Linked DNA regions of Homo sapiens: regions 2, 3, 4, 5, 6 and 7 are each reported to be linked to region 1. Evidence: microRNA targets listed by miRTarBase, many of them from high-throughput screens and not tested one by one. Region 1 holds a microRNA gene; each other region holds the end of a gene's coding sequence. Distances are between the middles of the regions.

Region 1 (4,696 bases):
GATTACGAGGTCAGGAGATGGAGACCATCCTGGTCAACACGGTGAAACCCCATCTCTGCTAAAAATACAAAAATTAGCCGGGCGTGGTGGCATGGGCCTGTACTCCCAGCAACACAGGAGACTGAGATGGGAGAACCACTTCAACCCGGGAAGGGGAGATTGTAGTGAGCAGAGATCGTGACCCTGCAAAGAGGACCACCTGAGCCCAAGAGAGCTAGGTTGGAAGTGCCACTGCTCTCCAGCCTGGGCAAAAGAGACCCCGTCTTAGAAAACAAACAAACCAGGAACAAAAGCCCACCCTCATCCAAGTCTGATGATAAGCACGCTCTGCAAATGTATTGCCGAGATCAGCATGAACGTTAACGTTGCTTTTCTCAAACTGTAATCCTCTAAAAAGATGCACTTTCTTTTCTTTCAGACAACAGAAAGCGCTTCCCTCTAGAGGGTCACAGGCTGAGATCTTCTTGCTCCAGCACCATTGATTTTTTGTTGGAATTTTCCTTGACCAGGTTAAAATGGACACAAAAATAAAGATGCATTTATTGGCCCTGTTTGCATGATTTCTGGAATCCAGAACATAAACCCCTATCAGGGCCATCTCCAGTTCCTTGTTTCAAAAAGCAATGCCGACTATACATACCTTATATTTAACCATGAGAATTGGGCTGGATTCTAGAGAACAGCAATAGATTTTGAGCTAAGTGTTCACTCGAGTTCCAGTACAGTGACACACAGTCCCGACGGGGGCATCCAAAATGGAATCTACGATGTTGAAGAATATGCATTGTCACACACACAAACACCCTCCAGGAGAGACCACAGGCCAGGCTGTAAAAGCTCCTCAATAAAATGAGCAGAAACACACAGGTACAGGTGAGGTGTGGTGGCTCACACCTCTAAACCCAGCCCTTTAGGAGGCTGAGGCAGGAGTATCACTTGAGTTCAAGAGTTTGAGACCAGCCTGGGCAACATGGTGATACCTCATGTGTAGAGAAAACAGAAAAGTTAGCCGGGCGTGGTGGTGTGCGCCTGTAGACAGCTACTCAAGAGGCTGAAGTGGCAGGTGGAGGTTGCAATAAGCTGAGATGGCACCACTGCACTCTAGCCTGGGTGACAGACCCAGACCTTATCTAAAAAAAAAACAAAAACATACACACACAAACAAAAAATTACCCAAAGTGATACGAGAGTATTCTCTGTGTATAGAAGAGTGTTTTGTGTGTATATGACTATGTTACATGTATAATAAGAATATGATAAAATATATATTTTTGAGACCGTACATCAATAAAAATTAAGTTCCATATACTATGTGCTCACATGAAAAATAATTCCTACACATATGTGCTTGCATTGGCAGCACACATTAAAAAAAATTGGAGGCTAGGCTGGGTGGCTTACACCTATAATCTCAGCATTTTGGGAGGCTGAGGCAGGCGGATCACCTGAGGTCAGGAGTTGGAGACTAACCTGGCCATCATGATGAAACTGCATCTCTGCTAAAAATGCAAATATTAGCCAGGCGTCGTGGCACGTGCACCTGTAATCCCATCTACTTGGGAGGAGAGGTTGCAGTGAGCAGATAACATGCCACTGCGCTCAAGCCTGGGCCAGAGACAGAGACTCTGTTTCAAGAAAAAAAAAAAAAGCAAGCACGGGACCACTTGAGCCCAAGAGATCTAGGTTGGAAGCGCCACCGCACTCCAGCCTGGGCAACAGAGACCCCATGATGCAAAACAACTAAACAAAAACAGAACCCCAACATCATGCAAGTCTGATGATAAGCACGCTCTGCAAATGTGTTACCAAGATCAGCATCAACTTCAACGTGGTTTTTCTCAAACAGTAACGCTCCAAAAGAAGGCACTCTGCTTTCAGACAACAGAAAGTGCTTTCTTTTGGAGAATGACTGCATGAGATCTTCTCGCTCCAAAAGTCTGGGTTTTTTGACGGAATTTTCCTCACCTGGTTAAAATGGACACAAAAATAAAGATACATTTATTGACTCTCTCTGCATGTTTTCTGGAATCCAGAATATAAACCCCTAAAAGGACCATCTCCAGTTCCTTGCTTCAAAGGCTCAGCAGGTTAGCCTTGTTCATCAAGAGACAATCCTCCTGAGTTCTGTCCCCAAAGAGAAAAAGCAATGCCTACCACACATACCTTATATTTAACCATGAGAATTGGGCTGGATTTCTAGAGAACAGCAATGGATTTGAAGCCAAGTGTTCACATAAGTCCCAGTACAGGGACACACAGTCCCCATGCAAGCATCCAAAATGGAATCTAAGATGATGTTTAAGAATATACACTGTTGTACACACATTCTCCAGGATAGAACACAGGCTAGGCCATAAAAGCTCCTCAATAAATTTTTTTTTTTTTTTTGAAACAAGTCTCACTTTGTTGCCCAGGCTGTAGTGCAGGGCCGTGATCTCAGCTCACTGCAAGCTCTGCCTCCAGGTTTCCAGCAATTCTCCTGTCTCAGCCTCTGGGGTACCTGGGATTACAGGCACGTGCCACGATGCCCACCTAATTTTGCATTTTTAAAATTTTTTTTTCTTTTTTTTCTTTTCTTTTTGTGGAGAACAGGGTCTCACTGTATTGCCCAGGCAGGTCTCAAACTCCTGGGCTCAAGCTATCCTCCTGCCTCTGCCTCCCTAAGAGCTGGGATTACAGGCGTGAGCCACCGCGCCCGGCTAATTTTTGTACTTTTAGTAGAAATGAGGTTTCACCATCTTGGCCAGGCTGGTCTCAAACTCCTGACTCCAGGTGATTAGCCTGCTTTGGTCTCCAAGAGTGCTGAGACGACATGCCTGAGCTACCGTGCCTGGCCTGCAGACAGCTATTCCAGAGGCTGCGGTGGGGCATGGGCCAAGACTGCAACACTGCACTGCAGCCTGGGTGACAGAGCCAGACCTTGTCTCATAACACACACACACACACACACACACACACACACACACACACACGAAGGAAAAAAAACCCAAAGTGATACAAGAGTATTCTGTGTGTGTAGAAGAGTGTTTTGTGTTAATCATTATATTATCTATAGAAGATGATATGATAAAATGTGTATCATATATAAGACACTGCCCCCAGAAAAGGAAGTTCTATATACTGAATGCTCACACGAAGAGTAATTTCTCCACCTAAGTGCCTTCTCTGGCAGCATATGTTAAAAAAAAAAAAAAATGACAGCGATTCCCACGTCCCCTGCACAAAGTGACACCCAAATTCATGATGGTCCCATATTTAAAATTAGAAAAAACAAATGCCGACACCCACAGCCAATCATTTCTACTTCAAGTACATCTCAAGTATACTGTTAATCTGAAATACAAATTTAACCAGGTTTCCCTGCTCTGGGAAGCCCCCTTTGGTAATTCAGATAAGGGTCTCCTTTGGAAGGTAATGGGTAAGGAACATGGAGATGTCAGCCAAGGGAAGTGACTCTCAGGGATTTCTATGGATTATGCAGACGCCCAGCCAGATCCCAAACTTCCCCAAAAGATCCCAAGTCCAGGCAGGAAGGACCACTGGGCTCCAGAAACCAAATGAAGTGGCCCTGGGCAGGAGTCTCTGTTGTCAGATTCCATGACTAAGACAGCCAGGGAGCAGAGTGAAAATCCCAGGGGCTCTCTCTCCCAGAAGACACCTGCTCCATCCAGATCAAACCCAAAATGTCCCCAGAGAATGATGCCTGCTTCTCCTTTCCCCTCGGCTCATCCTGCCTGCATCGGTGCAGTGCCCTGACGTTCCCAGCCCAGAGGCCTTCACTCCTTCCAGTGCCCCAGGAGGGTCACCTTGCAGTTCTCAGGGAGGAAGATGGGGTCTTCCACCCTTGTGAGCTTCCCAGACATCAGGGTCTGCCCGCCCCACTCCATTCCCAAAGGATGTTCCGCCCAGTTCTCCCAGCCTCCTGCTTCCCTCCAGGGACCACCCTTCAGTGGTAAGATTCACATTGCAGACAACCAGGACCAACCCATTATCCTCAACTGGACACCCATACAAGATTGGTCTACGTGACCGGCCTACAAGAGGCAGATCCAGAGCTAGAGAGATGGGGAGTCGTTGCCACGGTCTGGGTGGAAGAGGTGGGTGGGTACTGACTGCAAATGAGTATAAGCCTCTTCGGGGTGATGAAAATCTTCCAAAACTAGAGTGGTGGTGGCTGCAAACAAGCTAAAATCCACATCTCAGAGTTCATCTCAAAAGATTAGTTTCTCGGCCGGGCGCGGTGGCTCACGCCTATAATCCCAGCACTTTGGGAGGCCGAGGCGGGCGGATCACGAGGTTAGAAGATCGAGACCATCCTGGCTAACACGGTGAAACCCCGTCTCTACTGAAAATGCAAAAAATACAAAAATTAGATGGGCGTGGTTGCACGCACCTGTGATCCCAGCTACTCAGGAGGCTGAGGTTTCAGTGAGCCAAGATAGTGCCACTGCATTGCTGAGACACACAGTGAGACTCCCTGTCAAACAAACAAACAAACAAACAAAAACGACCGGAGCCCAAGAAATGTAGGTTGAAGTGTCACCGCACTCCAGCCTGGGCAACAGGGACCTTGTCTTGGAATACAACAAAACAAAAGCAAAACCCCACCATCATCCAAGTCTGATGATAAGCACGCTCTGCAAATATTTTACCAAGATCAGCATCAACTTCAACATTGCTTTTCCCAAACGGTAAC
Region 2 (3,000 bases), not on the chromosome of region 1:
ACATAAGAGACTCCAATGGGCCCTAAGTCCTCCCCAGCTCCACAAAGCTGGCTGTGAAGAAGTTGCTGAACTACTCCATAACCTTTTATTTTACAGTTGCTTTCATGAGCATGACTTGTTTCCATAATCACATGCAAATTGGGGGAAGTAACTATATGGATGGAAACAGGGGGTGGCTGTAAGTAGATCCAGTTTCTCTCCCCTGGGGTGGCTGATCTCAGTAAGACTTAGGGATGCAGGTGGGCTTTTATCTTTGTCTCTCTTAGGGGATGAGGGAAGAGAGGGACAGCAGAGGTGAGAACAGAGACAAAGAAGTGCTTCTGAAAGTTGGTCTGGAATTAGACCCCAAAGATCCTGACTAATATTGCCCCCCACTTGGGCTTAGCGTCCTTTGTTTTAACTGGCTTATTTTTAAAGTAAATTAGTTGTTCAGCATGTTGCTAAAACAAAACAAAAAAAAATTCTAAAAATGAATTAAATCACTTTCATCCACTTCATCCCACAACTTTTGGATACACTGTGCATCATTTCCAGATTTCTCCACAAAGAAGGAGGGACAACCCAAATGAGGCACAATGACTGAAGGCAGCAGAGCAGTCTGTCTACTTTCTGGGAAGACATATGAAATGAGGGAAAAGGTCAAGGTGATCAGAAAAGGTTCTCTCATTTGAAAAACAGGAGAGGAATTGGCATTCAGTCAAGGGATCTATTTCAAGATTCTAGGAAGAGGCTTCTTCCTAGAAGAATAAATAGAGGAATAAAATAGGCACAAAGTTCTGTAGCTATTTGTACGAGGTTTTGTAGAATCCACTGAAATTTTAATTCAGAGGATAAATTGGGTAAGAGCAGTGCATTTTAATAAATGTGAAGTTTTTGAGAGTCCTTACAACTTTAATACTAGGTTTCTTCCCACCAGTAAAGTGTTTAAATTCCCCCTGGGAACTATGCATTTGTCTATTTAACATCCATGAAGTAAAAATTGTCCTAGGCTTAAATTTTACTTTTCCAACTTTGGTATAAGTGAATTACAAATGCCTACACTCAAGTTGTTTTCCTAGACAGGATTTTCTCAAATGTTAATTGCTCTGGCCATTTTAGCTTCCTAAATTTAGTCCCCAATCCTGGTCATTGGTATTTTGCTGGCTGAGGCACTGTCACCCCCCTTCCCCAGTAATGGCCCCACACTCTTCATGAATGAATGCTTAAACAGATTAGGAAAGCAAACAGAATTTTCTAATAGCAAAGAAACCTCTGTGTGTATGTTCATCAATATAAGCGTTCATAATGAATGAAGGAATAGTTAAACAGATTAGTAAAGCAAACCAAATTCTCTAATTGCAAAGTGTGTGTGTGTGTGATCATCAATATACAGGCTTTCTCAGAAGAGGAAGAAAACTATAGAGGTAGCACTATACTGATCTATATTTTAAAAGGTTGTGCAAGCATGTTATGCATCTCTTTTGTTTTCAGAGACGGCAGAGAGCAACGTCTTGCTGCTCTTGGAATATCTGGCTATAAACTAGTCCAAAGTCCAGGAACACTTATTTTCCCTTATTTGGGCCAATGTTTGTTCACAGGTAGCCAGCCTCCCTCCCCCAGTTCAAGCACTTCATTCAAGGGTGGGTGTGGTTTCTAATCACAGCTCTCCAGGAGAGGAGGAATAAGAAAAGCAAAAAGGCTGTTTAACATGATAAAGGGGGAGGGGGGAGGGGGGAGGGGGTGGAGCAAATAAGTGTTGGAAATTTACTTATTAGAAGTATATCCATTTCAGTCCTTACATTTAAAAAGGAGCCCCCTTTAGCAACTGTCGCTAAGTATTGTCCAGAGGGAGTGGGTTTATACTTTTACCAAAATTATAACACAAGTTCCTTAAAAAAAAAAAAAAAAAAAAAAAAAGGGGATCACTGAAGCTTAAGAACCACCCACTACCTCTCAGGCACAAAGCTGCCATCTCACCAGCCTAAAATTCAAGCTCCACCAATCACCATCGCTTAGGCTCTCACTACTGCAAATATTTATGCCAGATCCTCTATAATGCTACCTCTAACTTATTCAAGACACAACGATGGTGCTGTTAGGAGTGAGAATTATTACAAGCACTACAGAAAAGAAACTGAACCTCCCTCTATAAACAAAGCTAAGGCTGAACACAAAACCGCTAAGCACTCCCTAACCTTGTCACTTTGGGGAGGCCCTGAGCTCATTATGCTCCCCTCCTAGGTATGACCTGGGGCTATAAACTGCAGCTCACCTTAAAGAATCATGGACACTTTAAGCAGTGGAAGGAGAAGCTGGCTGAAAAAGCACACCCAACAACTTCCCAGTCACAGCAACCGAAACGTTCACTGTTCACATTTTTTTTTAAAGACACACGTATAGGAAATATATTTTCCCAATTGAGACCACACAGTTCAAAGAAACCTGAACCAAGTGGAACTTCATTACAACGCCAACCTTAGGATTGTAAAGCCCCCAAAGCAAAGGTAAATTGTTGCCAAAATGCAACAAAGTTACAAATTAAGAAAAATACATATAAATTAAAAAGAGGGTTCCCATAAAGAAGGCAGTAAGAAACGCAAAATAGAATACACGTGAGCTGGGCCCCTTGGAGAAGACCTGGGACAGGTTCTTCCTCGAAAACGCCCCTCTTCCCTCTCTCCAAGTCGCCGCGGGAGGGGGCAACAGCACCATGAAGGTAAACGGAAGTGACCTTGGCAAAACTACCAAACAAAACGCCCCCCTCCCCTCAGCTCTCCGGCCGAGTCCCTCGGCGGCAGCCTCCTACACGTGCGACAGGGACACCTGCTTGTGGTAGGTGGCGGCGGGGCCCGGCGGCCCGGTCCTGCCTGTGAGCGCGGCGCTCGCCTCGGGGTAGTCCCCTGCGGCCATGGCGCCCCCGCTCTTGTGGCCGCGCCGCGGGCGGCAGCAGCAGCGGCTGGTGAAACGCCGCCACGACTCCACCGTCTTGCCCGACCAGATCCAGACGCCCGACGTGATGCC
Region 3 (4,696 bases), 50 Mb from region 1:
ACCGAGTCAACCCAAAGTTCCAAGTTCTTTGCTTTCTCTTCTGTGTGTGTGTTGGTTTGTCCCAAAAGTCAGTTTGCAAGTTGAAACTTCATGAAATTACTCGTAGCAGAAATAAAGTACATTGTACAAATCACGCAGGTCTGCGATGTGGAGTATAAAAATGGTATTTACAGCCAGTAAACATGGACCAGAAAGACACGTACAACTGCACACCGGCACACACTCCCAAGCAGGCCCTCGGGGGCCTCGGCGGGCGCCGCGGACACGGGTGAGGCCCCCTCGAGGCAGATTGGCATGGCACACGCTTGCACACGGGGACACACGGAACACAGGCACGCTAGAGGAGAGTCTCGAAACAATTATCAAACTCTGGAATATCGAAACAAGTTGGTTCAGAAGATTTTTTTTTTTCTTTTCTATTTTTTTTTCTTTTTTCTTTTCTTTTTTTTTTTTTTTTTTTTTTCTGTGTGGTTTCCCCCACCCTACCGCCCCCCCTCCGGGTCAGTCAACACATTTTGGTAGAAAGAAAAGGAAATGCTTGGTTTTTTTTTTTTTTTTTTTCTTTCTTTTTAAATGTTTTTTTCTTTTGAGCTTATTAAGTTATCTGGCGCCTCATTTGGTAAGAGGCCTTGCCGGATGTCCAAACGAACTTGATGCTGTGCTTTGACGTGGGTGTCGCGGATTGGGCAGCTGTACAGAGGCACCCTCACAAAGACACCCCACCCCACCCCACTCCCAACTAGGAAACAAAAATCCATTGTGGTTTGATTTTTTCCCCCCATCTTTTTCTTCTCTTTTCTTCTTTGTACCTGCTCAGAAAGACCGGAAAAAAAAAAAAATCTCTGTAGAGGTATGAAGGTCATTATCAAGTTCGTCTCCAGTTAAAGGGGTGCTTGGCCGGTCCGGGTAGGGTCTTCCGCTACGCTTGGCAATCCTGGTTACAAGACCTTAAATTCGAGGCTGGTGATTCGAAGGCAGGGACAATGGCTGCCTGGCCTTGGGAGGGGGTGGTGAGGGGCAGGGGGGCTCCCCCCAACCCTGTCCGCCCCCCCCCTCCGACGGAAAGCTAAGGGCTATTGGTCACATGAGTAAGGCTATGACTCGGGCAGGGGAGCAGAGAAGGGCTGAGGCAGGCCAGAGCGTCTCTGTTGTACCTATATCCATCCCGGAGGGCAGGGCTCTGGGACGAAGGGGCGAGGTGGGGTCTGGAGGCTGCAGCTGGGACCAGGGACACTGAAGCTGGCAGAGCCCAACGGCCCTGGAGAATTGGTGGTGGGGGGTGCCAAAAGTCCTGGAGGTATGTTGTGTTGGCGGGTTCCTGGTGGGATGTGCCAGCCAGGAGGTGGTGGGGGTGGGGGTGGGGCACCTGGTATGTGTTGCGCGGGGTCCCGCCAACCTCAGCCCTTCCTGTGTCCCCCGCTGAGTGACCGGCCCAGGGTCACTCTACTCGGATGGAAGGAAGTCGGAAAAGTTTGGTCCCATGATCCGTACTCAAAATATATATATACTGTCTATAGATCTATATATATATGCATATATATATATATAGGAAAAGGTGTGATTTAGTTTGGGGAAGTCACCAAGTTTTGTGGGGAAGAAGCGAGAGCGTTTCCCAAAGCAGGGGGGGCGTGTGAACACTTCTGCCCACGATTCAGGAGCCTCCCCCACCCCCGCCCCTGCCCCAGGACAGACCCCAAAGGCCCCTCGCCACTCCAGGTGGCCTCCAGTAGAGGGGCAGGGCAAGGGGAGAAGAGGGGAGGAAAGGGCTGGTGTCCAAAGAACGGTTGGAATTTATGGGTAAGTCCTGGATCGGTTGGAAGCAGAAAACCCTCCTGGGATGGGAAGGCCCCTCACCTGGGGGAGAAGGGACGGGCGTTAGGGAGTGAGAACGGGGCCACACAGGTGGACACCACCTCCCCACCCTACTCCACCCGGCCAGGCTGGGATCTAGGAACACAGGGGCTCCCATCTTTTCCAAAAGAACAGATCCCACAAAGGCCAGAGTTCAGAGGCCAACAAACCCAGCTTTCAAAGAACTTAATGTCACCATCACCAAGCCCATTTCCTCCTCCTCTGGCAGCTGGGGACAGATATTTCTGTTTATTTTCTGTCTCTCCTTCCCTACCCCCTGCCATCTAAGGCCCGTGAAGGGGGTTTCTCCCCTGTCCTCCATCCCCCGTTTCTGTTCATTCACAGCTGCGTCCCCGAGCACTGGAACAGTGCCTAGCACATAATAGATGCTCAGTTAAAAAAAAAAAGTGCAGACTGAGAGTTAAAAGTGAAGGGATCGCAGAGAGCAGCTTTGGATTTTGCTTCTGGTTGGCAGTTCCTGAAGGTGCGTTCTGTGCAGGTAAATACTCCCAAATCTGTGTGTGCTGACCCGGGAGAAGGTGAAAAGGCCAGACAGCTTCTAACTGAGCGTCTACTCTGTGCCAGGCCCTAGGCGAGACTCTGATGACGACAGCGATGGTGATTTAAAAAAAAAAAAAATCAAAACGAATCATCCAGAACTCTTTAGGTGATGGGTTCTGGGCTCGGCTGCGAAAAGATGCCCCACTCTGTTCCCTAGGTGGACCGTTTCCGCCGTCTCTGGGGAGATGACTTTCTTGAACCCATTTTACAGATGAGGCTCATCAAGGTTTGAGACCCACGGTTAAGTTTCCACAGTGGCCCCACAAGGTTTACTGTTCATCCCCCCACAAAAAAATGTTGAGAAAGTGGTTTGCCCTGATGGCAAACTACAGTCTGGGTTTCGTTTTGCTTGTTTTTCTTGCATGATGGTGGGTGGGGCACGAATCCCACTTTTCCATCAACTCATTGGGTAGGAATGACACCCAGTGAGGGGCCGCTTGTCCCAGGGGAACTAGTGGAAATGGAGCGGGGACACTGGAAGCTGTCAGTGCCAACTGGACTGGGCCCTGAGCACTGTCCCCACCTTCCACGCTCCACTCCTGGTTCCGAGTTGGGGTCCAACCTTAGGGTTTGGGGTCTGGGGTGGGCACTTGGCATTTCCGTCTGGTGTTGGGTTTTCAGCAGGGAAAACAGACTCATAGGACAGGACAGAACCCCCTCCCCACCGCACCCCCACCCCCAGAGCAAACCTGGCCTCTCAGGTGAACTTCTATTCAGCCCTCAAAGCCTTCTCCGGGAAGGATTCCCTAACCGACCTCACTGGGCCCTGGCTCACCTCAGTCCCTACCCCATTCCCACCCTCTGCTCCAGCCCCAACCACAGGGGGATCGGGGGTGTCTACATCCAGCTCTGTCCCCGCCAACCCAACCCGGAGGTTTCTTGTAGCCTCTTGAAGCATCACCCCACCTGGGGAGGGTTTGGAGCATGAAGTGGGCCGCGGGAGGGGGTTTCAGACAAGACGGGGGGCTTGGGCGGGGGTGGGGCCGCCTGGCGGCTCACCTGGGCCATGCCTACAGCCTCAGGGCGGCTGTGGGCGCGGTCAGTAGGGGTGTCCCGGGTCTTTGGGCCGCTTCAGCTGGACTTTGAGCCTCTTCATGCCGATCTGGAAGCCGTTCATGGCCTGGATGGCTGCCTGGGCGCTGGCCGGGTTATCAAAGCTCACGAAGCCTGCAGAAACCAGGGTGGACCTCCGTGGTTGGCGCTGCGGGTGTCCTCGGCTTGTTCCTATGCTGTGGCCCTGGCTTCCCGGCTCACGGGGTCCTGAGCAGGCCTGCGTGCACACCTGCACAGGCCAGGGTGTTTGTGGTGGAGGACACACAGCAGCCCTGGCTTTGTTCTGACACCTCTGGACTTGTATACCTCTGAGGATGGGGCACTCACTCCTTATCTTGGGGTCGGCTGTGCTGAGACTTCCCAGCTGGTATAGGGGCCAGGTGGGGCTTCCGAGGGTCCTGGAGGGCCACCTTTTCCCCACCTTCCCTCAGGAGGATGCCTGCCTCCTTCCAAGCCCTCTGTCCAGCCAGGATCTGTGTCTCCAGCTGACTGTGTGTCCACAACTTTGTCTCTCTCTTTTTTTTGCAGAAGGGAGTGGGGACAGGATCTCACTCTGTCACCCAGGCTGGAGTGCAGTGGCGCAATCTCAGCTCACTGCAGCCTCGACCTCCTTGGCTCAAGAGATGCTCCTGCCTCAGCCTCCTGAGTAGCTGGGACCACAGGCCCATACCACCATGCCCAGCTAACTGTCTCTGTTTCTCTCCCCTCCCCTCTTTCTCTCGTTCTCTAGCTTGAGTCTTTTCTTCCTCTCCCTCTCCTTCTGTCTCATCTCTGTCTCTTTCTCTCCATCTCTGTCAGTACCTCTGCTCCAGTCTCTGTCCAGAGGCCATCAGAAATACTCCACCCCATGGCCAGGCGTGGTGGCTCACGCCTGTAATCCCAGCACCTTGGGAGGCCAAGACGGGCAGATCACCTGAGGTCAGGAGTTTGAGACCAGCCTGGCCAACATGGTCAAACCCCGTCTCTACTAAAAATACAAAAATTAGCTACGCATGGTAGTGTCCACCCGTAATCCCAGCTACTCAGGAGGCTGAGGCAGGAGAATCGCTTGAGCCTGGGAGATGGAGCTTGCAGTGAGCCGAGATCGCACTGATGGCACAAGACTCCATTTCAAAAAAAAAAAAAAAAACAAAGTCAAGGGCTGACCCTTTAAACAGGACAGTGTGAGGTTAACAGTCTGGTCTTTGGCCGGGTGTGGTGGTTCACGTCTGTAATTCCAGCACTTTGGGAG
Region 4 (4,696 bases), not on the chromosome of region 1:
CTGGCTAAAGATTCTGAGAGTCTTTCAGACATGTTCTTAGGATGTGTCAGGTCTGAAATTTTTTAGGGTTTTTTTAGTTCATTCTTGTTTCATCTTAATAGTCAGTAGTCACTTGCTACAACTGTTCCCTGTCTCTTTGCAGCTGTAGCATTTACCTTTGATCTCAGTGGACTCAACATTTTGTCATTCCAAAGTATCCTGCCATTTGTTTCAGCACTTTATGTCATGGGAAACAGAAACCAGTGTCTGCAAAAGCACCTAGAAGCCAGAAATAAAGATGTATGTGTTATTATTTCTCTTGCCTTTTGAAAAAGAAACCAAGAGTTGGCAGTTTACTTCTAGAGGCACTATGTTATATCGGGGAACAGAAAGAGCTGTGTTGGGTAAATGTAACAGACTTTTCTCTCTCTTCTGTGTGGCTCTTTGCATTGTGCAAACCTGGGGCACTGCACACACTTAACTCATTTATTCTCCACAGATATGTTTTGGTATGTTTTTGTTACATTTATATGTCTATAAAGGAATTAGAACCTGTGGTATTTTGCTATGCCATCTTGCTTATGTAGTTTGTATGATTTTATAGGTTAGATTTGTAAAGTATATTCATCTGAGTCTAGCAGGTGGAGTAATTTGTTATTTTTTGTTTCTTTCAGCTCTGTGTTCTCGTTTTGCCCAAGACCTTTGGCTAGAGCAGAACATAAAAGATTCTTTCCAAAAAGTGACACTGAGCAGATATGGAAAATATGGACATAAGAATTTACAGTTAAGAAAAGGCTGTAAAAGTGTGGATGAGTGTAAGGGACACCAAGGAGGTTTTAATGGACTTAACCAATGTTTGAAAATTACCACAAGCAAAATATTTCAATGTAATAAATATGTAAAAGTCATGCATAAATTTTCAAATTCAAATAGACACAAGATAAGACATACTGAAAATAAACATTTCAGATGTAAAGAATGTGACAAATCACTTTGCATGCTTTCACGCCTAACTCAACATAAAAAAATTCATACTAGAGAGAATTTCTACAAATGTGAAGAGTGTGGAAAAACCTTTAACTGGTCCACAAACCTTTCTAAACCTAAGAAAATTCATACTGGAGAAAAACCCTACAAATGTGAAGTATGTGGAAAAGCCTTTCACCAATCCTCAATCCTTACTAAACATAAGATAATTCGTACTGGAGAAAAACCCTATAAATGTGCACACTGTGGCAAAGCCTTTAAACAGTCCTCACACCTTACTAGACATAAGATAATTCATACTGAAGAGAAACCCTACAAATGTGAACAATGTGGCAAGGTCTTTAAGCAGTCCCCAACCCTTACTAAACATCAGATAATTTATACTGGAGAGGAACCATACAAATGTGAGGAATGTGGCAAAGCTTTTAACCTATCTTAACAACTTACTGAACATAAGAAAATTTACACTAGAGAGAAAGCCTACAAATGTGAAGAATGTGGCAAAGCCTTTAACCAGTTTTCAACCCTTATTACACATAAGATAATTCATAGCGGAGAGAAACCCCACAAATGTGAAGAATGTGGCAGAGCTTTTAACCAGTCCGCAAAGCTCACTGAACATAAGTTAATTCATACTGGAGAAAAACCCTACAAATGTAAAGAATGTGGAAAAGCTTTTCACCGATACTCAATCCTTAGTACACATAAGAAAATTCATACTGGGGAGAAACCCCACAAATGTGGAGAATGCGGAAAAGCCTTTAACTGGTCCTCAACTCTTATTACACATAAGATAATTCACAGTGGAGAAAAACCCTACAAATGTGAAGAATGTGGCAAAGCTTTTAACCAGTCCTCACACCTTATGAGACATAAGAAAATTCATAGTAAAGAGAAACCCTACAAATGTGAACAGTGTGGCAAGGTCTTTAAGAAGTCCTCAACTCTTACTGCACATAAGATCATTCATACTGGAGAGAAACCTTACAAATGTGAGGAATGTGGCAAAGGTTTTAGCCAACTCTCAAACCTTACTAAACACAAGAAGATTCATACTAGAGAGAAACCCTACAAATGTGAAGAATGTGGCATATCTTTTAACCAGTTCTCACAACTTGCTATACATAAGATGATTCACACTTGAATGAAACCCTACAAATGTGAACGATGTGGCAGTTGTTTTAACTAGTTCTCGAACTTTACTATGCATAAGAAAATTCAAACTGGAGAGAAACTCTACAAATGTGAAGAATGTGGCAAAGCTTTTAACCAAGTCTCAACACTTACTATACATAAGATAATTTATACTGGAGCAAAACCTTGGAAATTCAAAGAATGTGGTAAAACTTACAATCCTCAAAACTTCTTACACCTAAAATTCATGCAGGAGAGAAACACCACAAATGTGAAAAATTTGGTAAATTCTTTAACAAGTCTTCAACCCTTTCTGCACATAATATAATTCATACTGGAGAGAAACCCCACAAATATGAAGAATGTGGTAATGCTTTTAACCAATTCTCAAATCTTACTAAACAAAATTAATACTGAAAATGTTACAAACCAGAAAAATGTGAAAATGATTTTAACAAAACCTTCAAATTTTTCTAAACATAAAGGAAATCATACTGGTAAGAAATTATAAAAATGTGAAGAATGTGACAAAGCCTTTAAATGGTTGTCACACTTGATTGTAGGTAAGATAATTCATACTGGCAGAAACTCCCAGAAGTGTGAAGAATATGGCAAAACTTTAATTCCTATACCTTATTGCACAGGAAAGCATTTATACTTCAGAAAATGTTGTACTGATATAAAGAATGTAGAAAAGCCATTAATATGTGCTTACATCTTATTCAACATTAGAGAGTTAGTACTTAATAAAAGCATTATAAATGCAATTACTGTCAAAACTCAGCATAAGGTTTTGTTTTAGTGTGTGGTTTGTTTGTTTGTTTGTTTTGTTTTGTTTTTTTTAAATGAGACTACGTAATACTCTCTCCCAGGCTGGAGTGCACTGGTGCAATCTTGGTTTACCGTAACCTCTGCCTTCCAGGTTCAAGCAATTCTCCTGCCTGGGCCTCCAGAATAGCTGGGACTACAGGCATGTACCATCACGCCCGGCTAAGTTTTGTATTTTTTAGTAGAGACAGGATTTTACTGTGTTGGCCAGGCTCATCTCGAACTCCTGACTTGAAATGATCCATACACCTCTGCCTCCCAAAGTGCTGGAATAACAGGTGTGAGCCACTGTTCCCAGCCAATATAAGCCTTTAAAGTAAAAAAAGAGTTTTTATTTTGAAGACAAACATTAGAAACATAAAGAGGGTTGTAGTGCCTGCCTTACTTGTATCACAGATCTTATTGTACACATTTTGTATCCGAAGCAGTTGCTCAAACTTCGTTCAACATCAGGGAATTTATATCGGAGAAAAACTACAAATGTAATACATTTCAAAAATTTTTCAAAAACTACATCTTAGAAAACACCAGGGGATGCATACTAAACTATATTTTTCCACATGCAGTAAATATAAAAAAAATCAAAAATAAGGCTACGTAAGTATCAGAGAATTCACAGTAAAAATATCTAAGGCACTGACACTTCAAACATTGCACTAAGTAAATGTGCTGAGTATATAAAATAACCCAAAACTAAAGTGGGTAGATAAATTATTTGTACATAACTTTAAAAGAAGTAGAAATATTTTTGCAGAGTTACAATTACATTCAAAGTATACTTTTTTCCTTGAAAAAAATTGCAGAATTTATGAAAAGTGAATAATGTAATTCAACTCAAATTACTTCATGCTCTTCATTCCTATTGCATTCACTAGTGAAAGCATGTGATCAATTGTTGCTGCATCAAAGGTATGAGAGATTCTTTTTTGTTATGTCAATATTGTTTTTGAATTTTTCTATGGAAGAGTAAAGACATTACAATGTAGGATGCATGACAAAAGTCTAAGTGGAGAGGCTCTTTGTGTTTAATTTATAATATTGAGTGATGTATGAGGTAAGTGTTCAGAGTAGTATTCTGCGTTATACTCCAAACAAAATAATTTTAGTTAAAATTAATTAGTATATAATTTTACTAATTGTACTTTTATGTAATAAAATGCAGTACAGTTTGAAAGGCAATGGAAGGGCACCGTGGATCAATAAGGCCAAGAGGCGAGACAAAGAGGGCAAAAATCTTTATTGAGCTCTCGGGCGAGGTTCACTGGTCCACAGGGGGAGGGCCAGGGAAGTCGCACTGTGCCAAAGGTGCAGCGCGCTTTTATGGATGCTGGGTGAGGAGTGGGCAGGGTAGGGGCGGGGTCGGTTGAGTTTCACACTTCTGAGTGTGACACGCCCTAGTGGGCATGCGCGTTAGTCGGGGTGACGGGAACAGGAAAGGTGAACCCGGAAATGCTGAGTCGGGGTATCTGAGGTGGTGATCGCCATCTTGGAGTCTTCACTGGAGTCCAATCAGTCCAGCCTATTTTTGGTTATAGAAAAGGGGCGACGAAATCATCTGGCTACTTCCTGCTGTTAAGGGGTGTCACTGGGGAGAGGGCCTAAATCAGAGGTTGGCAGTTGGACGTAGGGGTGAAGTAACATCTGGTTGAAAGTGACCCTGGTGATTTCTTGTATCCGCTGGCGGAGAAACTGTACTAGGATTGGGGCAAAACACATTATTATACAGAGAATTATAATTGGGATAAGGAAAGGGAGCATCTGTTGAACC
Region 5 (4,696 bases), not on the chromosome of region 1:
AACCTCCACCGCCCAGTTTCAGGCGTTTCTTCTGCCTCACCCTCCCAAGAGCTGGGATTACAGGCGTGCACCACCATTCCTGGCTAATTTTTGTATTTTTAGTACAGATGAGGTTTCACCATGTTGGCCAGGCTGGTTTTGAACTCATGACCTTAAGCGGTCTGCCTGCCTTAGCCTCCCAAAATGCTGGGATTACAGGCATGAGCTACTATGCCTGGCCTGGTTTGATTTTAGAGATAGACAGGCTCTGTGTTGCCCTGGCTACAGTGCAGTGGCTGTTCACAGCTGTGATCATGGCACACCGCAGCCCCAAACTCAAGGTGGGCTCAAGCTGTCTTCCTATCTCAGCCTTCCTGGTAGCTAGGACCACAGGCACACTCCACCACACCCAGCTAGTTCTAGGTGTTTTGAGTAAGTTAGACACTTGGTGAGCTTTGTGTATAAAAGACTCAGTGACCTGCTTAGATTAAAACTAGGGCAGTGGAATGAAAAATTCTCATGGGAAGTGACAGTTTATTTTCTTCACTTACTGGTAAATGAAAGCCAAAAAGCTGAATTTTCCTAAGTAAACTAGAAAGAACATGGAGTGTGTGTGACTAACTAGGATGTTTGTGTTTACGTTTACAAAGATAACTTTCACCTACAGTGGTTGTAGATACAAGTAATAAAAATGAACAAGACCAGTATTCTAACGTGGTTACCTTCCAAGATTGGAAATTTAACCAGGCGTTGAAATGCTGAAAATTTCTGTTAGAAAAGATGGGCGAAGGAATTAATGGTGGATACTGAAACCACAGTTGGCTGTATGAGTTGAACTGTAACAGGCAATACCTGTTGTATGGCCAACATGATTACTCAGTTGCAGTGCACATGTTGGCTGGTTGGCATATGCTCTGTAAGCGCAGCTTGGCAGTCTTTAAGATCCATAGAAATACTCTTTGACGTTTGATCTCTAAGTTCCATTTCTGGGCATTTGTCCTTAAGGAATGGAAAAGCAGGCAAACTAAAGCTAGTCATTGCAGCAATAACCCACTGGAAACAACTGAAAATATAATGAGAGAATTGTAGAGTGCTGGATAAAATGTTGTGGGTCCACTCAAAATGATTCGAGTGTTGTAGTGTGGAAAATGCCCAAGCCAGGGGGGACACATTTAAAATGGTGGGTACACTCTGATTGTGATTATCAAATATATAGATGGACAAGGACAGGAGGGTTTTTTGAAAAGTAAAGACAGATGAGAAGTGTAATATAACCTAAGTCTTTAAAACGTAGAAACATTTAAAAATACAATTGCTTTGAATTTGAGTGGACTCATATAAAACAAGAATTGTCTGGATTTGCTGTCTTGCTGTTAAGGCAGGGTTCTTGAAAAGAGCTGTGTGTCCACTGCCTCAATCACTCCTCACAGTCCTGCTGCTTCTCTCTTTGCTGAAAATGCTTTAGGGGTGGAATGTCTGTTCTTAACCACTGTGGGTGGCTTCATAAATCACCTCCTTACTGAAGTGTGCTTGTTAGGCCTATTGGTTATCAAATGGGGCACAGTGTAGCTGCCTCTTAAAAAGTTGTGAGGAATGAGTTAGAACTGGATCTGAAGTCCTCAGGTAATAGGCATGGCTATGACTGGGTGACTTTAAGCATTGTTGCTTCTCAACTTGCTTTGTATCCTCAGCAGTCAAACCAGGTGCTCTTGGCTCCATTCAGACTCTTGGGTTCTGCTCTTGACCATTTTGCAAAGAGTTCTGAACCTTCATGGGCAAGGTCAAGCACCCTGTGACTGGGGGAGAACCTTTGAACCTGGAGTGTGGGCCTGGGTTCGCCCCGGATCCCTGTCCATTGCTTGCTGTGGGCCTTGGTTTCTTTATCTGTAAAATGGAGGTAATGCCTGGATTACAAGGCTGCTATAAGGATGAGAGGGGACAATGAGGGTACTTTTTAATGAAAGCATTCTTGTCACCACCAGGGAACCATAGTCAGGATTTGGGGGCATGTAGGTGTCATTCCACAGCCACTTACCAAGCAGCCCTCTCTTAGCTTGGTGCTGGGACTCATTGCCTCTCCAATGGAATTTTCCAAGTGTGTTGAGGGCTGTCTTGCTCCTTACCTACTTGATTCTCTTGCAGATCTTACTGTGCCGAGATCGCTCACAATGTTTCCTCCAAGAACCGCAAAGCCATCGTGGAAAGAGCTGCCCAACTGGCCATCAGAGTCACCAACCCCAATGCCAGGCTGCGCAGTGAAGAAAATGAGTAGGCAGCTCATGTGCACGTTTTCTGTTTAAATAAATGTAAAAACTGCCATCTGGCATCTTCCTTCCTTGATTTTAAGTCTTCAGCTTCTTGGCCAACTTAGTTTGCCACAGAGATTGTTCTTTTGCTTAAGCCCCTTTGGAATCTCCCATTTGGAGGGGATTTGTAAAGGACACTCAGTCCTTGAACAGGGGAATGTGGCCTCAAGTGCACAGACTAGCCTTAGTCATCTCCAGTTGAGGCTGGGTATGAGGGGTACAGACTTGGCCCTCACACCAGGTAGGTTCTGAGACACTTGAAGAAGCTTGTGGCTCCCAAGCCACAAGTAGTCATTCTTAGCCTTGCTTTTGTAAAGTTAGGTGACAAGTTATTCCATGTGATGCTTGTGAGAATTGAGAAAATATGCATGGAAATATCCAGATGAATTTCTTACACAGATTCTTACGGGATGCCTAAATTGCATCCTGTAACTTCTGTCCAAAAAGAACAGGATGATGTACAAATTGCTCTTCCAGGTAATCCACCACGGTTAACTGGAAAAGCACTTTCAGTCTCCTATAACCCTCCCACCAGCTGCTGCTTCAGGTATAATGTTACAGCAGTTTGCCAAGGCGGGGACCTAACTGGTGACAATTGAGCCTCTTGACTGGTACTCAGAATTTAGTGACACGTGGTCCTGATTTTTTTTGGAGACGGGGTCTTGCTCTCACCCAGGCTGGGAGTGCAGTGGCACACTGACTACAGCCTTGACCTCCCCAGGCTCAGGTGATCTTCCCACCTCAGCCTTCCAAGTAGCTGGGACTACAGATGCACACCTCCAAACCTGGGTAGTTTTTGAAGTTTTTTTGTAGAGGTGGTCTAGCCATGTTGCCTAGGCTCCCGAACTCCTGAGCTCAAGCAATCCTGCTTCAGCCTCCCAAAGTACTGGGATTACAGGCATCTTCTGTAGTATATAGGTCATGAGGGATATGGGATGTGGTACTTATGAGACAGAAATGCTTACAGGATGTTTTTCTGTAACCATCCTGGTCAACTTAGCAGAAATGCTGCGCTGGGTATAATAAAGCTTTTCTACTTCTAGTCTAGACAGGAATCTTACAGATTGTCTCCTGTTCAAAACCTAGTCATAAATATTTATAATGCAAACTGGTCATTTTTGGGATTTTGTTTTTGAGACTCATTCTGTCACCCCGGCTGGAGTGCAGTGGCTTGATCTTGGCTCCCTGCAACTTCTGCCTCCTGGGTTCAGGCGATTCGATTAACAATTGGAGACGAGTCGTGCAGAGGAAAGAAGTAACTTAGAATCTAATCTTTATTAACCTGGGATATCACAGAAAATACTTGGGCCTGCCACTTGTATTTCTTTGTCCTCAATACTGAACACTAGACACATTTGAAACCTTCCTCAGAAGGAAACAAACCAACTGGTTATGCCTGGGTGGTGGCATGGAAGATGCCCATTGTTGCCCAATTTGCTAATAAGTATTTTGAAATTAGAAATGAAACATGAGGTCCAAGCCTGTCCAGTTCCCTACCCAACCCATTCCTCCTCCCTGGAAAAAAGAAACCCGTATCATCTTCCAAATTTCTGATTCATCACTGCCACTTAAAAATGAACCGTTTTGAATTTTAAAATGTGAATAACTCAAGTATCTTTTCTTTTGAGATGCCCGGCCTGAGCACTAACTTCAGGCATTGCTGAATGCAGTGAAGAAACCAGAGTGGTGTCTGCTGCCTCCTGATCTTTTACAGCTGACAGCACAGCCTATTTCTAAATACTACTAGTTTGTGAGGCAGAGACACCCTCTGAAGGAACCAGACAGACTATGGAGGGGTACAGTGTGAAGTCACTGGAAAACTTCCTCACCCTATTTCTTTGGATGACTGTCCTGAGTTAAGGAAGGGGCCCAACTGTTGGCAGCCTCACAGCTTGGGCTGGGGGCCTTTGAGTTGGGTCCCTGGAGAAGGCACTGTAAGCCCTGACCAGGAGCGACAGGGCCCCCAGTGAGATGGTGGAAGGGCAAAAGTAGAGACCTGCGATGGTGGGATGGGGAGGCCTCGGACTTGGGTGGGCTCCTTTCTCTTAAGCGAGGGCCCACCTTGGTGCTGAGGGGACTAGCTGAGCTCCATTGAGTCTGTGCTGGGGGCTGAAGCGGAATCCTTCTGGATGCTTTCAAAGAGGGCAGCAAGTTCAGGGTTGGATCTGATTTGGGAAGAGAAGTCGGCCATGATGGGGCTTTTCCCCACCTCGGGGATGGTCAGCAGGGCAGCCACTGCCCTCATTGCAGAGCGCTTCAGTTCATCTTGCTTTTCAAACTCCTGCTTCACAGAACCAGCTTTGACCTAAAGTAGGAAACAGCAGAAGCAGCCATCCTTTATTGAGCCTGGCCCACACCACTGCCTCCTCACTGGTCTTTGGCTTCCTCTCTGCCCCATCATCTTCCCCAAC
Region 6 (3,000 bases), not on the chromosome of region 1:
CGCCAGGCCCGGGTCCGCTACTACCACCAACTGAGCCAACATGTGACCGTGGACGTGTTCGGCCGGGGCGGGCCGGGGCAGCCGGTGCCCGAAATTGGGCTCCTGCACACAGTGGCCCGCTACAAGTTCTACCTGGCTTTCGAGAACTCGCAGCACCTGGATTATATCACCGAGAAGCTCTGGCGCAACGCGTTGCTCGCTGGGGCGGTGCCGGTGGTGCTGGGCCCAGACCGTGCCAACTACGAGCGCTTTGTGCCCCGCGGCGCCTTCATCCACGTGGACGACTTCCCAAGTGCCTCCTCCCTGGCCTCGTACCTGCTTTTCCTCGACCGCAACCCCGCGGTCTATCGCCGCTACTTCCACTGGCGCCGGAGCTACGCTGTCCACATCACCTCCTTCTGGGACGAGCCTTGGTGCCGGGTGTGCCAGGCTGTACAGAGGGCTGGGGACCGGCCCAAGAGCATACGGAACTTGGCCAGCTGGTTCGAGCGGTGAAGCCGCGCTCCCCTGGAAGCGACCCAGGGGAGGCCAAGTTGTCAGCTTTTTGATCCTCTACTGTGCATCTCCTTGACTGCCGCATCATGGGAGTAAGTTCTTCAAACACCCATTTTTGCTCTATGGGAAAAAAACGATTTACCAATTAATATTACTCAGCACAGAGATGGGGGCCCGGTTTCCATATTTTTTGCACAGCTAGCAATTGGGCTCCCTTTGCTGCTGATGGGCATCATTGTTTAGGGGTGAAGGAGGGGGTTCTTCCTCACCTTGTAACCAGTGCAGAAATGAAATAGCTTAGCGGCAAGAAGCCGTTGAGGCGGTTTCCTGAATTTCCCCATCTGCCACAGGCCATATTTGTGGCCCGTGCAGCTTCCAAATCTCATACACAACTGTTCCCGATTCACGTTTTTCTGGACCAAGGTGAAGCAAATTTGTGGTTGTAGAAGGAGCCTTGTTGGTGGAGAGTGGAAGGACTGTGGCTGCAGGTGGGACTTTGTTGTTTGGATTCCTCACAGCCTTGGCTCCTGAGAAAGGTGAGGAGGGCAGTCCAAGAGGGGCCGCTGACTTCTTTCACAAGTACTATCTGTTCCCCTGTCCTGTGAATGGAAGCAAAGTGCTGGATTGTCCTTGGAGGAAACTTAAGATGAATACATGCGTGTACCTCACTTTACATAAGAAATGTATTCCTGAAAAGCTGCATTTAAATCAAGTCCCAAATTCATTGACTTAGGGGAGTTCAGTATTTAATGAAACCCTATGGAGAATTTATCCCTTTACAATGTGAATAGTCATCTCCTAATTTGTTTCTTCTGTCTTTATGTTTTTCTATAACCTGGATTTTTTAAATCATATTAAAATTACAGATGTGAAAATAAAGCAGAAGCAACCTTTTTCCCTCTTCCCAGAAAACCAGTCTGTGTTTACAGACAGAAGAGAAGGAAGCCATAGTGTCACTTCCACACAATTATTTATTTCATGTCTTTACTGGACCTGAAATTTAAACTGCAATGCCAGTCCTGCAGGAGTGCTGGCATTACCCTCTGCAGAACAGTGAAAGGTATTGCACTACATTATGGAATCATGCAAAAGGAAAAAAAGTTTCATGATATCTGTTGTTGGCAGTTTTTGTTTATCTCTGACAGTTTTTAGTTAAATGTTTAGATCCTCAGAACTACATTAGTGCCTACTATTAACTTACTCTGTCTCTTGTTAAAGGCTAAATCTGCGCTTCTCCCTGGTGCCAGCAGGTTCCCCTCACAGTCAATGCAGTGGTATAGCATATCCTCACATTTCTAGTGCCCTTGAGACTGTGCTATGGAACCAATCTTGAACATACATGCATTGACTTGACAAGTTACTGAGTAAGCAGCATATTCAGCAGGTGCCACTACATGCCTACTCTGCCAGACACTGAGCTTGGGGCCCTAGGGAAGATAGAGAATTATACAAGGCAAAGTCCTTCTCTTTAGGGCTCTTACAATCTATCACTTCCAAAAAGTAAATGGTGACTGATAAAACAATTGGCAGAACCTGTTTGATTACTGTGACAGTCTTAATGATACCATAAATCAATATTAGAAAGCTAGTTGACTTAAAGCCTGAAATAATGGGAGTTTTCTCCTCCACTTATTAGAATAAGGACCCTCAGTGACTAATTATTGTGGGTAGGGTCAAGATTAACTAGTTTTATACAGAGTTCTGCTGTAAATAGTCATTTTGCATTTGATTAGTGCAGTTCTCTGAATCATAAAGCAAGTTTTACCTCTCTGTACATGTTTTTGCAGACATACTTGAAAAGCTCACTTAAATCTAGGTGCTTCAATTCACTTTCTTGAGAGGACAAATGAAAAGCTGTGGAGAAAATGTCCTCATTAAAGTATTAAAGTGTGGGCAGAATTACAATTACAAAGTGCCAGCCACCGAATAAAGATAAAAGTTCAGTTCTTAAAATGAGTTTTTATGAGATAACAGTCAGTGATCTTGGTGTTACCGGGATTCCACATGGGGCAGTGGGAAAGAGTTCAGGTTTTGAAGGTAACCTAGTTTAGATTTGAATTCCAGCTATGTGACATTGGGTAAATTAGTAGTAGTCCTGAGCCTCAGCGTCCTCATCTATAAAATGACTGGCGAAAATACTTCACAAGCTCATTTTGAGCACTTTAGGAAGTAAGTGAAAGTACCTAAAATAGCAGGCACCCAATTGATGATTTTATATCTTCCTTCTTTGCTTGCAGTGATTTCAGGATGTCCTCATATCTATTTATAGGTCTAAAATTATATCTTAAGGTATGTTGTAGAATAAATTAAAAGGATAATCTAAATCACCATTTAGATTAAGCTTGACTTGCAAACTAGGAAGAAGCACCTAGGCTTTCTTTGAAAATATTTTTTTGGTTCGTTTTGGTAAAGCTCTATAAATTGGTATCTATTATTTTACCAATTTTTTTTTAGTATTAAGTCCATTTAGAACTAACCATATTATTTATGGAATAATTAGCATGA
Region 7 (4,696 bases), not on the chromosome of region 1:
CTCTGTTGATCCCACCACACTCGGATCTCTGTTCAGTGTGTGCTAGACCCTCTGACCTCGATGCTGTCAGCACTGAGATGACAGTGACACAAAAGCCAGTAAATTCACTTAATTTAGATTGACGTCATTTTGAAACGGATACGCTTTTGCTTCAAAGTCAAATCAATTGTTCTAAAACAAATGAAGCAGTTTTGTCAATGTGGGAGGTGAACTGTAAAGGAAATGACTTTTGATGCTAGACTCAGTTATCGGAAAACTTAAATATGTAAATCTACTTTTCTCAACTGTAAATTTTGTGAAATCTAAACATAAATCAAGTACTTTTTTTTGTTTTTTTTTTTTTTGAGATGGTCTTGCTCTGTGGCCCAGGCTGGAGTAAAATGGCACCATCTCAGCTCACTGCAACCTCCACCTCCGGGTTTAAGTGATTCTCCTGCCTCAGCTTCCCAAGTAGCTGGGATTACAGGTGCCCACCACCATGCCTAGCTAATTTTTGAATTTTTAGTGGAGATGGGGTTTCACCATGTTGGCCAGGCTGATCTTGAACTTCTGACCTCAAATGATCAGTCCACCTCAGACTCCCAAAGTGCTGGGATTACAGGCATGAGCCACTGTGCCTGGCCAAATCAAGTACTTCTGATGAAAAGTTAGCATCCAAATGGAGATATGTGTAAGCAGAAAATACACACCAGATGTCAAAGATAGAGGAACAAAAAAAAAAAAATACAAAATATCTCACTCATGATTCGTTACATTGATTACACACTGATGGAACATTTGTGATAAATTGGGCTAAAATGCATTATTAAAATTAATTTCACTTGTGTCTCTTTCCTTTTTTTAATGGGGCTATAAGAAAATTTAAAATTACATACATGGGGAAAAAAGCTAAAGTTGCCATTTTTTCCCTTTACCTTCATTTATCTGTTTGTCTAATAGTCACTGAAGAACATATCTTTTTAAAGAAGTACGTGTGTGACTTACATTATACTTCTATCTGCAGTGCTGGTTCAGAACACCATGACATTTGACCAAAGGACTCAGCAGAGGGAAGGCTGCCCAGGCCCCAAGCTCACCATGAAGGATACAGCCACACCCTTGGTTCATTCTCGCACGAATTTCAGACCTCCCACCTATGTTGAAGACTCTGGCTACTGGCCACATGCTCACCGACACCGTTCCACGGCAAAAGCCCAGCACATCTCAGGGGTTTCCTGGGAGGCCGGATGAATGTGTGAGGCCTCCTGGGAGCAGCCCTCAGCAGGCAAGGGCTTTGGCCTGTTGGGGTCCACAACTAAGTGTCCACAGTAGACCAGCCCTGCTCAGGCTTGGATTCTCTCAACATTAGGCAAAGGGTCTCCCCATACCCATTTGACAGATGCAAAAACTGAGGCTCAGGAAGCTCAAGTTTGGGAATTCTTTGAATTTTATGTTTCCTGAGCATCTATTTGAATGTAAGTTGGACTTTCTCATACTAGAAGCAGGGATTAGTAACACAGTTTCCAGTTATACAACTTCTCACTGTTCCCCAAGGTGGTCGATCCAGACATCTGCCTTACAAAACCGCCTCCTGGGACCACCTTCCCATGGACAGCTGGATACCACCTGCTTGACTTGTCCCACTGACCCCCACACCCACATGGACCATGCCGATATCCTACCCACACCGACCCCTCTCAGTCACAGCGTGAGTCCCCGGGGCTCATGCCTGCTTGCTCTAAACCCCCCAGTTAGAACCTCCAGGGGAAACCTGCATAGATGACACCCTGGGCCCCAGTGAAGGCTTTGGCTCATAGCTCCCTCTCTCTCTCGTTCTCCACCTTCTGGTTGAGCCCATGTGTCCTGAATGGCTCCCCCTTTTTGCTGGCCCTGTGAAGCGTGCTGCCCTCTGTTCTCTGGATCTGTAAGCAATAAACTGCTTCTGTCATTTCTTGGGTTCTGATGAGTTGCCTCCTCTACCCCATCCTAACTTCTTTCCCGGTCAGGGCTCTCCGGGAGAGTGGCTGTCTCAGTAGGAATAAACTGGACACAGGTCAGATGAGAGCCACAAGGTCATGTGCCAGGATAAACAAGCTTCCTGCGAGAGGGACACCTGGCCACAGGTTGGACACTCAGGAATCAGGCCGTCTGTGAGGTCAAAGAAGGATCCCATGAAAGGCACATGGGAAACACCCACGACCACATCCCCAGGATCCCCGTCAGGGCAGGGCTAGAGTTTACAGCCACTCTCTCCTGAGAAGGACGTCAAGACAAAATTAGGAAAAAAACTACAACATCAAGTCACTTGCCCAAAGTCACATGTACGCACCCCGTAGGTGCAGGTGCAGAGTTTCTCACCGGCTCTCCCCTTTACGCCACCACCAGAAACACAGGAGATATTTCTGAGGTAGCCTCAGGCCCTGGGACCCAAAAATGCCAGTGCTTGGAAATCCACTGCTTAGGAGACAACAGCTGGGTGACAACTCTAGCCCACCGTTCTCTGCTATCTTTTTAAAAAAGCTGCAAATTCAAAAATTCAAAAAATTAGTTTATTAGCTTAATATAATTAGGTCAATGGAATCCTGTTTTGATCTCAATACTTCCCATATTGCAATATATAAATGTGACAAATTCAGCTGTTTTGTGGCATAGATAAGTGTCTAAGCTGGGCAGTTAGTCTACCCGTTTATAGTTCATGTTCTTCATGGCTTTGCAGCATTTGTCACTTTCTATGATGTGTTCAAAGACCAGAAAAGGCCACACTTGACCTGTCAGCTGGTCCTTGAACAGCTGTAGGTTTTTTTTTTTTTTTGAGACAGAGTCTCCCTCTGTTGTCCAGGCTGGAGTGCAGTAGCGCAACCTCGACTCACTGCAACCTCTGCCTCCAGGTTCAAGTGATTCTCCTCCTCAGACTCCTGAGTAGCTGGGATTACAGGCACATGCCACCATGCCCGGCTGATTTTTATATTTTTAGTAGAGATGGGGTTTCACCATGTTGGCCAGGCTGGTCTTGAACTCCTGACCTCAAGTGATCCACCCACCTCGGCCTCCCAAAGTGCTGGGATTACAGGCGTGAGCCACCGCACCCGGCCTGTAGGTTTTAACTAATAATTAGGGTATTACTCTATCATTCTCTATCATTCAAATTCTCCAGGTACTGACCTGGTTTTTATTTTATTTATTTATTTATTTACTTATTTATTTTTGAGACAGGGTCTCACTCTGCTGCCCAGGCTAGAGTACAGTAGTGGCACAATCTTGGCTCACTGCAGTCTCCACCTCCTGGGTTCTATTGATTCTTGTGCCTCAGCCTCCCAAGTAGCTGGGACTACAGGCGTGCACCACCACACCAGGCTAATTTTTGTATTTTTTGTAGAGATGGGGTCTCACCATGTTGGCCAGGCTGGTCTCAAACTCCTGACCTCAGGTGATCCACCCACTTTGGCCTCCCAAAGTGCTGGAATTACAGGCATGAGGCACTACACCTGGTCAGACCTTGTTTTTAAATTATGATTCGATGTACATGTCAAAAATTAAATTATTTCATGCATTACGTCCTACTGAATTTGTGTTTCAAATGAAATAATCAATTTTAGGATTCCTACACTTATTTTATAAAAGTGAAAATTAAATCAAATGATCTAACTATTTCCAAGCAAATTTTGGGATGAAAGCTATTCTAGGAAGGCTTGCCCTTGATTCTTGCTACATGTACTTGTTCAGCCACTCAATTAAATTCCTTCTGGCCTCGTCAATGTAGGGCTTGTCTGCAGGTGAGCAATCTTCTCTCTTCCGATGCACGAACCCATGAGTCTGCCCAGAAAATGTTTTAATTTGATATTCAACTTTGCAGTGTTCTTTCAACTTCTGAGTCAGCAAAGATACCTGGTGTGCAAAAGATTTCATGATTTTAACCCTTTAGTGATACTTTCCATTCTCCAAATCTTTAGTGAGCGTTCATAACAGAAATTTAACATCAATGCTTTAAATCAGAAACAAGTTCCACAGTTACACTGAATTCTTTCCCACTAATTTTTTTCTTTTTAGACAGGGTCTCACTCTGTTGCCCAGGTTGGAGTTCAGTGGCGCCATCTCAGCTCACTGCAACCTCTGCCTCCCACATTCAAGTGATTCTCCTGCCTCAGCCTCCGGAGAAGCCGGGATGACAGGCACCCGCCACCATGCCCAGCTAATTTTTGTATTTTTAGTAGAGACAGGGTTTCACCATGTTGACCAGGCTAGTCTCAAACTCCTGACCTCAAGTGATCTGCCTGCCTCTGCCTCCCAATGTGTTGGGATTACAGGCGTGAGCCACGGCGCCCGGCCTCTACTGCTAATTTTATAACTAACACAGTCCTTATGTCTGGCAAAGGAGAGATTTCAGGGAAATGGAAAAATGATACATCTATTATTTGAAATCACTTGCATTAATATATTAGTTACTAATATTATAACAATAATTTCTAAATGACTGCTTTTTTTTCTTAAGAGTCAGGGTCTCACTCTGTCACCCAGGCTGGAGTGCGGTGGCACAATCGTGGCTCACTGCAGCCTCCAACTCCTGTGCTCAGGCAATCTTCCTGCCTCAGGCTCCCAAATAGCTGGGACTACAGATGTGTGCCACCATCCCAGCTAATTTTTTTATATTTTTGTGGAGAAGGGATCTAGCTAGACTGCCTAGCCTGGTCTTAAACTCTCAGCCTCAATCAATCCTCCC

What was found. Region 1 holds the annotated microRNA hsa-miR-515-5p (UUCUCCAAAAGAAAGCACUUUCUG, at 1,883-1,906, opposite strand). A microRNA usually pairs through its seed, bases 2 to 8, with sites in the 3' UTR of a target mRNA and lowers its output. Matches are read on the target gene's strand: a 7mer-m8 pairs with bases 2 to 8, a 7mer-A1 pairs with bases 2 to 7 and ends in A, and an 8mer does both.
Region 2: miRTarBase lists FZD5 as a target of hsa-miR-515-5p. Seed matches in the 3' UTR shown: 7mer-m8 at 2,656-2,662 and 7mer-A1 at 537-543.
Region 3: the mRNA of CELF5 is a reported target of hsa-miR-515-5p. The part of its 3' UTR that is shown has no 7-base or 8-base seed match.
Region 4: the mRNA of ZNF138 is a reported target of hsa-miR-515-5p. Seed matches in the 3' UTR shown: 7mer-A1 at 1,603-1,609, 7mer-A1 at 1,708-1,714 and 7mer-A1 at 1,771-1,777.
Region 5: the mRNA of RPL32 is a reported target of hsa-miR-515-5p. Seed matches in the 3' UTR shown: 7mer-m8 at 2,934-2,940 and 7mer-m8 at 3,513-3,519.
Region 6: miRTarBase lists FUT4 as a target of hsa-miR-515-5p. Seed matches in the 3' UTR shown: 7mer-A1 at 1,256-1,262 and 7mer-A1 at 2,353-2,359.
Region 7: miRTarBase lists CMBL as a target of hsa-miR-515-5p. Seed matches in the 3' UTR shown: 7mer-A1 at 3,126-3,132 and 7mer-A1 at 1,813-1,819.

The regions. Positions count from the first base shown.
Region 1 is chr19:53,682,232-53,686,927 of GRCh38, reverse strand. MIR515-2 (microRNA 515-2) reads right to left here and starts at 1,919; the gene lies at 1,837-1,919. All of the region lies in intron 2 of LOC107985342 (a long non-coding RNA gene), which reads right to left. It overlaps MIR520F (microRNA 520f), which reads right to left; the gene lies at 4,683-4,696. MIR519C (microRNA 519c) reads right to left here and starts at 459; the gene lies at 373-459.
Region 2 is chr2:207,764,201-207,767,200 of GRCh38, forward strand. FZD5 (frizzled class receptor 5) reads right to left here. Exons shown (of 2, transcript NM_003468.4): 2 at 1-3,000. The coding sequence ends at 2,782. Among named protein-coding and RNA genes, the nearest start is that of FZD5, 4.2 kb to the right of the region's middle. RefSeq lists a silencer at 2,891-2,950 and an enhancer at 2,985-3,000.
Region 3 is chr19:3,292,202-3,296,897 of GRCh38, reverse strand. It overlaps CELF5 (CUGBP Elav-like family member 5), which reads right to left. Exons shown (of 13, transcript NM_021938.4): 12 at 3,412-3,579; 13 at 1-140. The coding sequence ends at 3,452. LOC105372244 (a long non-coding RNA gene) reads left to right here. Exons shown (of 3, transcript NR_187753.1): 3 at 1-133. Among named protein-coding and RNA genes, the nearest start is that of CELF5, 70 kb to the right of the region's middle.
Region 4 is chr7:64,830,798-64,835,493 of GRCh38, forward strand. It overlaps ZNF138 (zinc finger protein 138), which reads left to right. Exons shown (of 4, transcript NM_001271639.2): 4 at 654-2,883. The coding sequence ends at 1,405. Among named protein-coding and RNA genes, the nearest start is that of ZNF138, 39 kb to the left of the region's middle.
Region 5 is chr3:12,833,649-12,838,344 of GRCh38, reverse strand. It overlaps RPL32 (ribosomal protein L32), which reads left to right. Exons shown (of 4, transcript NM_000994.4): 4 at 2,122-3,860. The coding sequence ends at 2,251. It overlaps CAND2 (cullin associated and neddylation dissociated 2 (putative)), which reads right to left. Exons shown (of 15, transcript NM_001162499.2): 15 at 3,542-4,590. The coding sequence ends at 4,363. Among named protein-coding and RNA genes, the nearest start is that of SNORA7A, 4.5 kb to the left of the region's middle.
Region 6 is chr11:94,545,232-94,548,231 of GRCh38, forward strand. FUT4 (fucosyltransferase 4) reads left to right here. Exons shown (of 1, transcript NM_002033.4): 1 at 1-3,000. The coding sequence ends at 495. It overlaps PIWIL4-AS1 (PIWIL4 antisense RNA 1), which reads right to left. Exons shown (of 5, transcript NR_135093.1): 5 at 101-615. Among named protein-coding and RNA genes, the nearest start is that of FUT4, 2.8 kb to the left of the region's middle. RefSeq lists an enhancer at 267-941.
Region 7 is chr5:10,276,769-10,281,464 of GRCh38, forward strand. It overlaps CMBL (carboxymethylenebutenolidase homolog), which reads right to left. Exons shown (of 6, transcript NM_138809.4): 6 at 827-3,864. The coding sequence ends at 3,685. Among named protein-coding and RNA genes, the nearest start is that of CMBL, 29 kb to the right of the region's middle.